2 linked regions of the Homo sapiens genome follow. The protein of the gene in region 1 interacts with the protein of each later gene in a pairwise test. Each region holds a gene or a part of one and is shown on either strand. Other genes may lie near its edges.

Region 1 (3,649 bases):
CCGGCCTCCACGCTTGCCACTGCCCAAGCAAGGCCCACTAGTTCCCACGGCCTGGCCTGGCCCCACTCTGCTTGCAGCCTCAGTGGCCGCCTCCGAAGAAAGCTGGGAGCTCAGGGCTGGGTCCTTCTCCCCTGGGGCTGCAGCTCTTGTAAGGGCCTCCTGGGCTAGACCTTGGCCTCGATCCACTGCAGAGGGCTCTGGGCTGCGGCCTCTGGGCACCCTGAAGGCCTCCAGGGTCCCAGGGTCCAGAACCCGCACAGTGACCTCATCCAGGAACCTGGAGAAGGGCAGTCTGGCCTCCCGCCAGCGGCCCAGGCGTGCGAGGGAGCCAGTGACAGCCCGGCTGCCTGTGTTCAGGGACTCTGGGGAGGAAGGCTGGGCTGGCGACACCCGGGCCATCTCCTGGCTGGACCGAGCTGCCCAGCGGTGGCAAGATGCTTTGCCCTTGGGGTTCCGACCTTGGCTGGGGCTTGGCATGTGGCTTCGAAGGTCCTGTCTGTGAGCTTCCTTGATGGGGGCTTCTGTCCCGGGCTCCAGGAGGGAGCTGTAGCCGTCCTGCCTGGGACAGGTAGGGTTAGAGCCCCGTGCCTGGGAGCTGGCCCCTGAGAGCATCCTCCTGAGTCAGTCCAAGGTCCGGGCTCCCCAAGAGCGCCGTCACCCACTCCTCTCCTCCCATGGGGCTGGGATCCCTGTGCCCTCTTGGGGGCTGTGCCTCCCGTCCTCACAGGCCAGGGCTGCCTGCCAGATGCCCGCCTGCCCATTGATCCAGTGGCAGGGCCTCTTGGCCTCCCACCCCCAAATCGATTCTCACTAAATGAGAGCTGAGCTTCAGGGCTTAGAAAGTGCTAGAGAGGGGAAGGTCGTGTCCTGGGCTCTGCCTGGGGAGGAGCCCTCCCTGAGTGAGCTCCCATGGTGCACAGGGCCCTAGGCTGGGCCTCCCCCTCTCCTACTCTCACATCTCCTCTGCCAGGTGCGGTGCAGGGTGCAGGGGCACAGAGGACAGGCAGTGGACAGATGGCCACGGTGGCCACCATGATGGCTTGAGTGCTGGGCCTGAAGCAGGGCAAACTGGAACTGCAGCAAACCAGCAAATGGAAGGGGGTGGCAGAGGCTGCGGGCAGCCCACAGTCCTCCCATGCATCCTTATTACAGAGCCTTCATTTTCTTTTGAGATACAGGGTAGTCGGCTAAAAGACCACCTTTCCCAGGCTCCTATAAGCCAGGCCAGGAGGTAGCCAATGAACTATAAACAGAAGTTGGGTGTGACTGCTGGCAGAACTCTGCAGAAAAGATCAGACAGCCAGCCTGTGTCTTTTTCCCATTCACCAACCTCCTGCTTCTTCTCTAGAACATGGAAGTGATGGCTGGAGCTGTGGCAGCCATTTTGCACCATGAGACAAACTTGTGGCAGCAGCCATATATAAAAGATGGAGGAGCAGAAAGACAAAAGGAATCCGGATATCTCATGACCACTGAATCATCATCACACCAGCCTTGCATCATCTGCCTCTGGTACTTTTTTTTTTTTTTTTTTTTCTGAGATGGAGTTTCGCTCTTGTTGCCCAGGCTGGATTACAATGGCATGATCTCGGCTCACTGCAACTTCCGCTCCCAGATTCAAGCAATTCTCCTGCCTCAGCTTCCAAAGTAGTTGAGACTACAGGCGCCTGCTACCATGCCTGGCTAATTTTTGTATTTTTTGTAGACACAGAGTTTCACCATGTTGGTCAGGCTAGTCTCGAACTCCTGACCTCAGGTGATCCGCCTGCCTTGGCCTCCCAAAGTGCTGGGATTATAGGCGTGAGCCACTGTGCCTGGCCTGCTTCTGGTACTTCTTTAACTTGAAAGAAAAATAACCTCTTGTCTTTAAGCTATGGTTATTTCATCTCTGTTGGTAGCAGCTATGTGCAATTCTCCAATGATATACAGGGTTAGGGTGAGAAAAAGCAGTTGTTAACGCTATGAGCAAGAGCCTTTGGCACATGGAGGCCTCGGGTGTAGTTAGGTGGGAGTGGGGCCAGGGAGATAAACTTAGAGAAGGGTTAGAGCCAGACCTGGACCCTCCATCATTTGTGTGAAGGGAGACACGCCTGCCCACTGCACCCCACACAGAGATCCTTCCTAGGATGCGGCTTTAGGCTGCTAGACTGAAGGAAGGCTTTCCAGGGGTGGCAGCCCAGGCCCTTGGCCTGGTGGGCATTACCACCATCGCTGGCCTGGCCTCTGGTGCTGCTTGGAGCGAGGCTGAGGCCCTGTGTGGCATGCTCATAGCTGTACATCTGGGCTCTGTCTGGATGCCTCCATCAGGTGCTGAGGACCCCTGCTTTTCTGAGCTCTGCCGGACACCTCTCTGAATGCCCAAAGCGCCCCTGACTGAGTCTGCAAAACTCAGTGCGTGGCCTCACCATGGCCTCAGCCACCCAAGACAGGAACAGGGGCCGCTTCAACTCTTTCCTTCCCTCTTCCCTGTCCCCGCCCCTGGCTGCCAGGCCCTGGAGATTCAGCCTTTCTCAGGCCTGGCCACCTCCCTGCATCCTCACCATCACTTTGCTGGTACCAGACACTACCATGTCTCACTTGGACATCTGCGATCATCCCTTCCTGTGCCTCCTGAGTCGATGCGGATCCAGCCCGGCCTATCCCACAAACACGGCGAGTGTGACCTTTTAAAATCACAGACCAGGCCGGGTGCGGTGGCTCACGCCTGGAATCCCAGCACTTTGGGAGGCCGAGGCAGGCGGATCACCTGAGGTCAGGAGTTCGAGACTAGCCTAACCAACATGGTGAAACCCCATCTCTACTAAAAATACAAAAATTAGCTGGGTGTGGTGGCGCCTGCCTGTAGTCCCAGCCTTGGGAGGCTGAAGCAGAAGAATCACTTGAACCCGGGAGGCAGAGGTTGCAGTGAGCTGAGATCACACCACTGCACTCCAGCCTGGGTGACAGGGCAAGACTCTATCTAAAAAATAAACACATAAATAAAGAAAAAATAAATAAAATCACAGGCCAGGTGACTAGACAACGTCACACCTTCATATACACTGCAAGGCCCTGACAATTGCTGGTGTCTTCTCTCTCTCTCTGCTACCCTCCCGCCCCGTGCTCCCCGCTGCCAAGGAACGTCTCTCAGGTCCTGAATGTGCTAAGCTCTATCTGACCTCAGGGCCTTTGCACTTGCTTTCCCTCTGCCAGAAACACTCTCACTCTCTCCCTTCCCCTCCTTCCCATCATCTAATTCCCAGCTGACCTTCAGGGTCCCAGTTTCACAGCCTGTCCCCCTCTGTCCCTCAGATTAGATCAAGTACCCCTGCGGCAGCCCCTTATAGCCCTGGCCCCCAGCTGTAACTAATGTTTGCAATTATTTATTATCTGTGTGTGTGTCCCCCCGTAGAATGTAACTTCCACTGTATCCCAGCTCTTTGCATAGGGCCTGGCACATAGCAGGTGCTCAATGCGTAGTTCTTGAATGACTGACTGAATGAATGGCATAGCAGGTTCAGGCTGTCAGTTCACAAACATCCCCAGCCTGGTGTGGGCCTACTGTGACTGGAAACAGGATGAGAATATAGGGGAGGGATCTCAGGCTCTCGGGAGGCCACAGTGTCCTCCTCCCACCCTATGGTCCCCGACAGTCGCCCCTCTACACCCG
Region 2 (3,749 bases), on another chromosome or scaffold:
AGGTGATCCGCCCGCCTCGGCCTCCCAAAGTGCTGGGATTATAGGCATGAGCCACGGCGCCCGGCCAATTTTATTTTATATTTATCTTATTTTATTTTATTTTAGAGTCGAAGTCTCGCTCTTGTTACCCAGGCTGGAGTGCGGTGGTGCTATCTTGGCTCACTGCAACCTCTGCCTCCCGGGTTCAAGCGATTCTCCTGCCTCAGCCTCCTCAGTAGCCGGGATTACAGGTGCATGTCACCACACCCGATTAATTTTTGTATTTTTAGTAGAGACAGGGCTTCACCATGTTGGTCAGGCTGGTCTCGAACTCCTGATCTCATGATCCACCCGCCTCGGCCTCCTAAAGTGCTGGAATTACAGGTGTGAGCCACCGCGCCCAGCCTTTTTTTTTTTTTTTTTTTTTTTTTTGAGACGAGAGTCGCACTGTGTTGCCAGGCTGGAGTGCAATGGCGTGTCCTTGGCTCACTGCAACTTCCACCTCCCAGGTTCAAGCGATTCTCCCGCCTCAGCCTCCAGAGTAGTTGGGATTACAGGCGTGTGCCACCACACCCAGCTAATTTTGGTATTATTAGTAGAGACCTCCGCAGGTCCTCTGGCCTCTCCAGACCTCAGTTTCCCCAACTATAAAATGGGGAGAGCAGCCATGCGCCATGGCTAACCAAAGACGGTGTCGCCAGGAACTTAGGAAAAGCTCAGTAAACTGGGTCATCATCACTACATTCCTGGGTCAAAGCTCCCTTGGATCCAAATGGTGGTTCTGGCTGCTTGGAACCCATTACCTCCTCGACAGCTCCCTCTCACTTCAACTTCGGATGAGAAGGGAAAAGGGACGCGAGTGACCAGGGCCAAGGGCAAGAGCAGTCCCCGAAGCAGGAGTGAGGGCAGAGAACAGGGCCCAGGGCGGGACCGGGGCGGAGAGGAAGCGTCAGGACCCCCAGGGTGGGGGGCGAGGGTTGGGAGCCCCTGAGATGAAGGGCGAGGGCCGGAGCTGAGGTGGGGTGGGGTCCCTCAGGGTGTCGGAGGAGGGTCGGGAGCCAGGAGGTGGAGGGCGAGAGCGGGGCCCGAGGCGGGGCCGAGTGGAAGGGTCAGGACCTCCGAGGTGGGGCGGAGGGACAAGGGTCGGGACCCCTGAGGTGGACGGCGAGGACCGGGGCTGAGGTGGGGTGATGGGCAGGGGCTGGGCCAGGGCCAGGCCGGGATCCGGTCGCGGTCAGGCTCCGGGACTGGAAGGGGAAGGCCGGCCAGGCGCCCGCGGCAGACGCCCACACCCCACAGGCCACGTGTGGCCTGGACGCCTGGGACGGCGGAGGCGCTCCGGTGGCGCCCTGAGCTGCTCAGTTACCAGAGCCGTTGGGGCCGATGATGCAGGTGAACCTCCGGAAGGGGCCAATGACCTGGCGGCCCCGCCACGACTTGAAATTTTCCACAAGCAGCAGCTCCAGGTGGGCCATGGCGCCGCCCTCCACGCCTCACCCGCGTTATCAAGCGCCCGCGGAAAAAGCGCGGGAAGGGATTCGCCAAGTGTCGCGAGAAGAGAGCGAGACGCGGCAAGCGCGGAGCCGTTCCTTAGCAACGAGTTGTTGACATTTCCGAGAGAGCGGGAGCGTCTGTACCTCTGCGGCGTCACTGGGAGCCCGACGGAAAACTGCGCTAAAGGCTTGTCTTTCCCCTGCCCGACCGAAGGAGCCGACCTTGCCTGCGCTACAGCTTCCTTATTTTCGTCGCCTGTTCTCCTGATCCTGCGTGTTCTAAAAACCCCTTAGGCTTTCCATGGGTTCCCAGACCATGGCGGTGGCGCTGCCCAGGGACTTGCGGCAGGACGCCAACCTGGCAAAGAGGAGGCACGCGGAGCTGTGCAGGCAGAAGCGGGTCTTCAACGCCAGAAACAGGATAATTGGGGTGAAAGGGCAGGGGCCGGGACGGGGTTAGAGCGGCAGATGCGGGCGAGGGGCTGCGTGGAGGGGGAAAGGAGATGAGTTCTAGGATGAAACATCTGAGCCAGGAGGCAGCAAACGGCCTCCTGCAGGGCCAATAATGCTCCCTCTCGAGCTCGCCTGGAGTCACCAACGGTTCTCCTCCCCTGAGCCAGATTTTCTACAACTCGTTTACAGTGGGGCAGAGATTAAAAATAATAATAAGTAGGATTGTTATTACTGAATAAAATGATCTGGCTCTAACCCTTCTCCTCTGTTTTTCCATTTATAGGGAGACACTGAAGCCTGGGATGTTCAAGTTCATGACCAGAAGATAAAAGAAGCTACTGAAAAAGCTAGACATGAAACCTTTGGTGAGCATTTCCTGAATGCTTATCTATTGGTTTAGGATTGTGTGGCTTTAGACTCCAGTCTTCCCCACCGTCCCCCTGCCCCGCCTTTTTTTTTTTATTTTTTATTTTTTTTATTTAATAGAGATAGGGTCTCACTATGTTGCCCAGGCTGGTCTGGAACTCCTGCGTGCAAGTGATCCTCCCACGTCAGTCTCCCAAAGTGCTGGAACTACAGGCATGAGCCACGGTACCCAGCCCTCCTTTCTTCACATATATAAAAAGTTGTCATTTTCACACTCTTCTTCCTTTTAAATTTCACAATTTCTTGTGCCCAGTTAACTTAATGCACTGATTCTTCTCTTAAAAACAGCTATTGAATTCGAATGTGGATTATAAGAAATAGATTTTAAGGGTATATGTATGTTTTCCTTCATTTTCTTAAAAAACTGGATAGGAAAAGCCTTAAACACAGAAAGACACACACACACACTCACTTGCTCTGCTCAAAAGTTTAAGACCGTCTATGAAGGACAGCTGTTTATACCAGACAACACATATGTCCGGGCTCACACCCTCAAGCTGACTCAGAGACAGACATGATTCAAATCATAGTATTCAAGTACCTTGAATACTGTTATTCAAGGTATTATTATTCCACTTCAAATACAACTTATTTTCCCCTATCGTGTCCAACAATTTCAACAATTGTTGAAATTTCACACTTTGAGAGGCTAAAACTAGAGGATCACTTGAGACCAGGAGCTCCAGACTTGCCTGGGCAACAAAGCGAGACCCCATCTCTACAAAAAATAAATTGAAAAAAAAAAAAAAAAGAAATTTCAGTGTTTTTAAACACCATAAAGATTTTTATAATAGAAAAAAAAGCAGGATACAAAATTGTACATACAATGGGCTGTTATGTTTTTAAAATATTTTAAAATATGCTCAGAAGAAGAAGAGAGGAAATATGCCAAAATGTTAGCAGGGTAATGTTGGAGGGATAGAATTATGAGTAAACTTTATTTTCTCCTTTATACTGTTCTGTATGTTCTAAACATTTTATCTTTTTTATTAATATTTTTAGTTATGAGGTAATTCAATCTTACAAAAACAATGTGACAGGTACATATGTACCCACCATCAGACTAGATGTTAACATTTTGCCAGATTGGCTTCAGATATCTTCAGTGTTTTTTGAGAATTGTGTTTTTTATATATGTGTATATATATATATATATATATAACAACACTGCCCTGCCCCCTACCTCTTAATTTTCCCCTCCTTTCTCCTCAGAAGTGTTTATCATTCCCATGCTTTTTTTTCTATTTTCTTTTGAGATGGAGTCTTGCTCTGTCTTCCAGGCTGGAGAGCTGTGGCGCGATCTCAGCTCACCGCAACCTCCGCCTCCTGGGTTCAAGCAATTCTCCTGTCTCAGCTTCCCGAGTAGCTGGGATTACAGGTGCACACCACCATGCTGGG

Evidence for each region. The genes of interacting proteins can lie anywhere in the genome.
Region 2: the proteins of BEGAIN (region 1) and RIBC2 interact in a two-hybrid assay, tested with the Homo sapiens proteins (one large-scale study listed by BioGRID and IntAct).

What each region holds. Positions count from the first base shown.
Region 1 is NC_000014.9:100,577,341-100,580,989, forward strand, and holds part of BEGAIN (brain-enriched guanylate kinase-associated protein), read right to left. Parts: intron 1-3,649. UniProt on the Homo sapiens protein: May sustain the structure of the postsynaptic density (PSD).
Region 2 is NC_000022.11:45,412,114-45,415,862, forward strand, and holds the start of RIBC2 (RIB43A-like with coiled-coils protein 2), read left to right. Parts: upstream 1-1,579; 5' UTR 1,580-1,773; coding exon 1,774-1,902; intron 1,903-1,964; exon of another isoform or gene 1,965-2,113; intron 2,114-2,208; coding exon 2,209-2,290; intron 2,291-3,749. Other genes in the region: SMC1B (structural maintenance of chromosomes protein 1B), read right to left, coding at 1,346-1,454. UniProt on the Homo sapiens protein: Microtubule inner protein (MIP) part of the dynein-decorated doublet microtubules (DMTs) in cilia axoneme, which is required for motile cilia beating.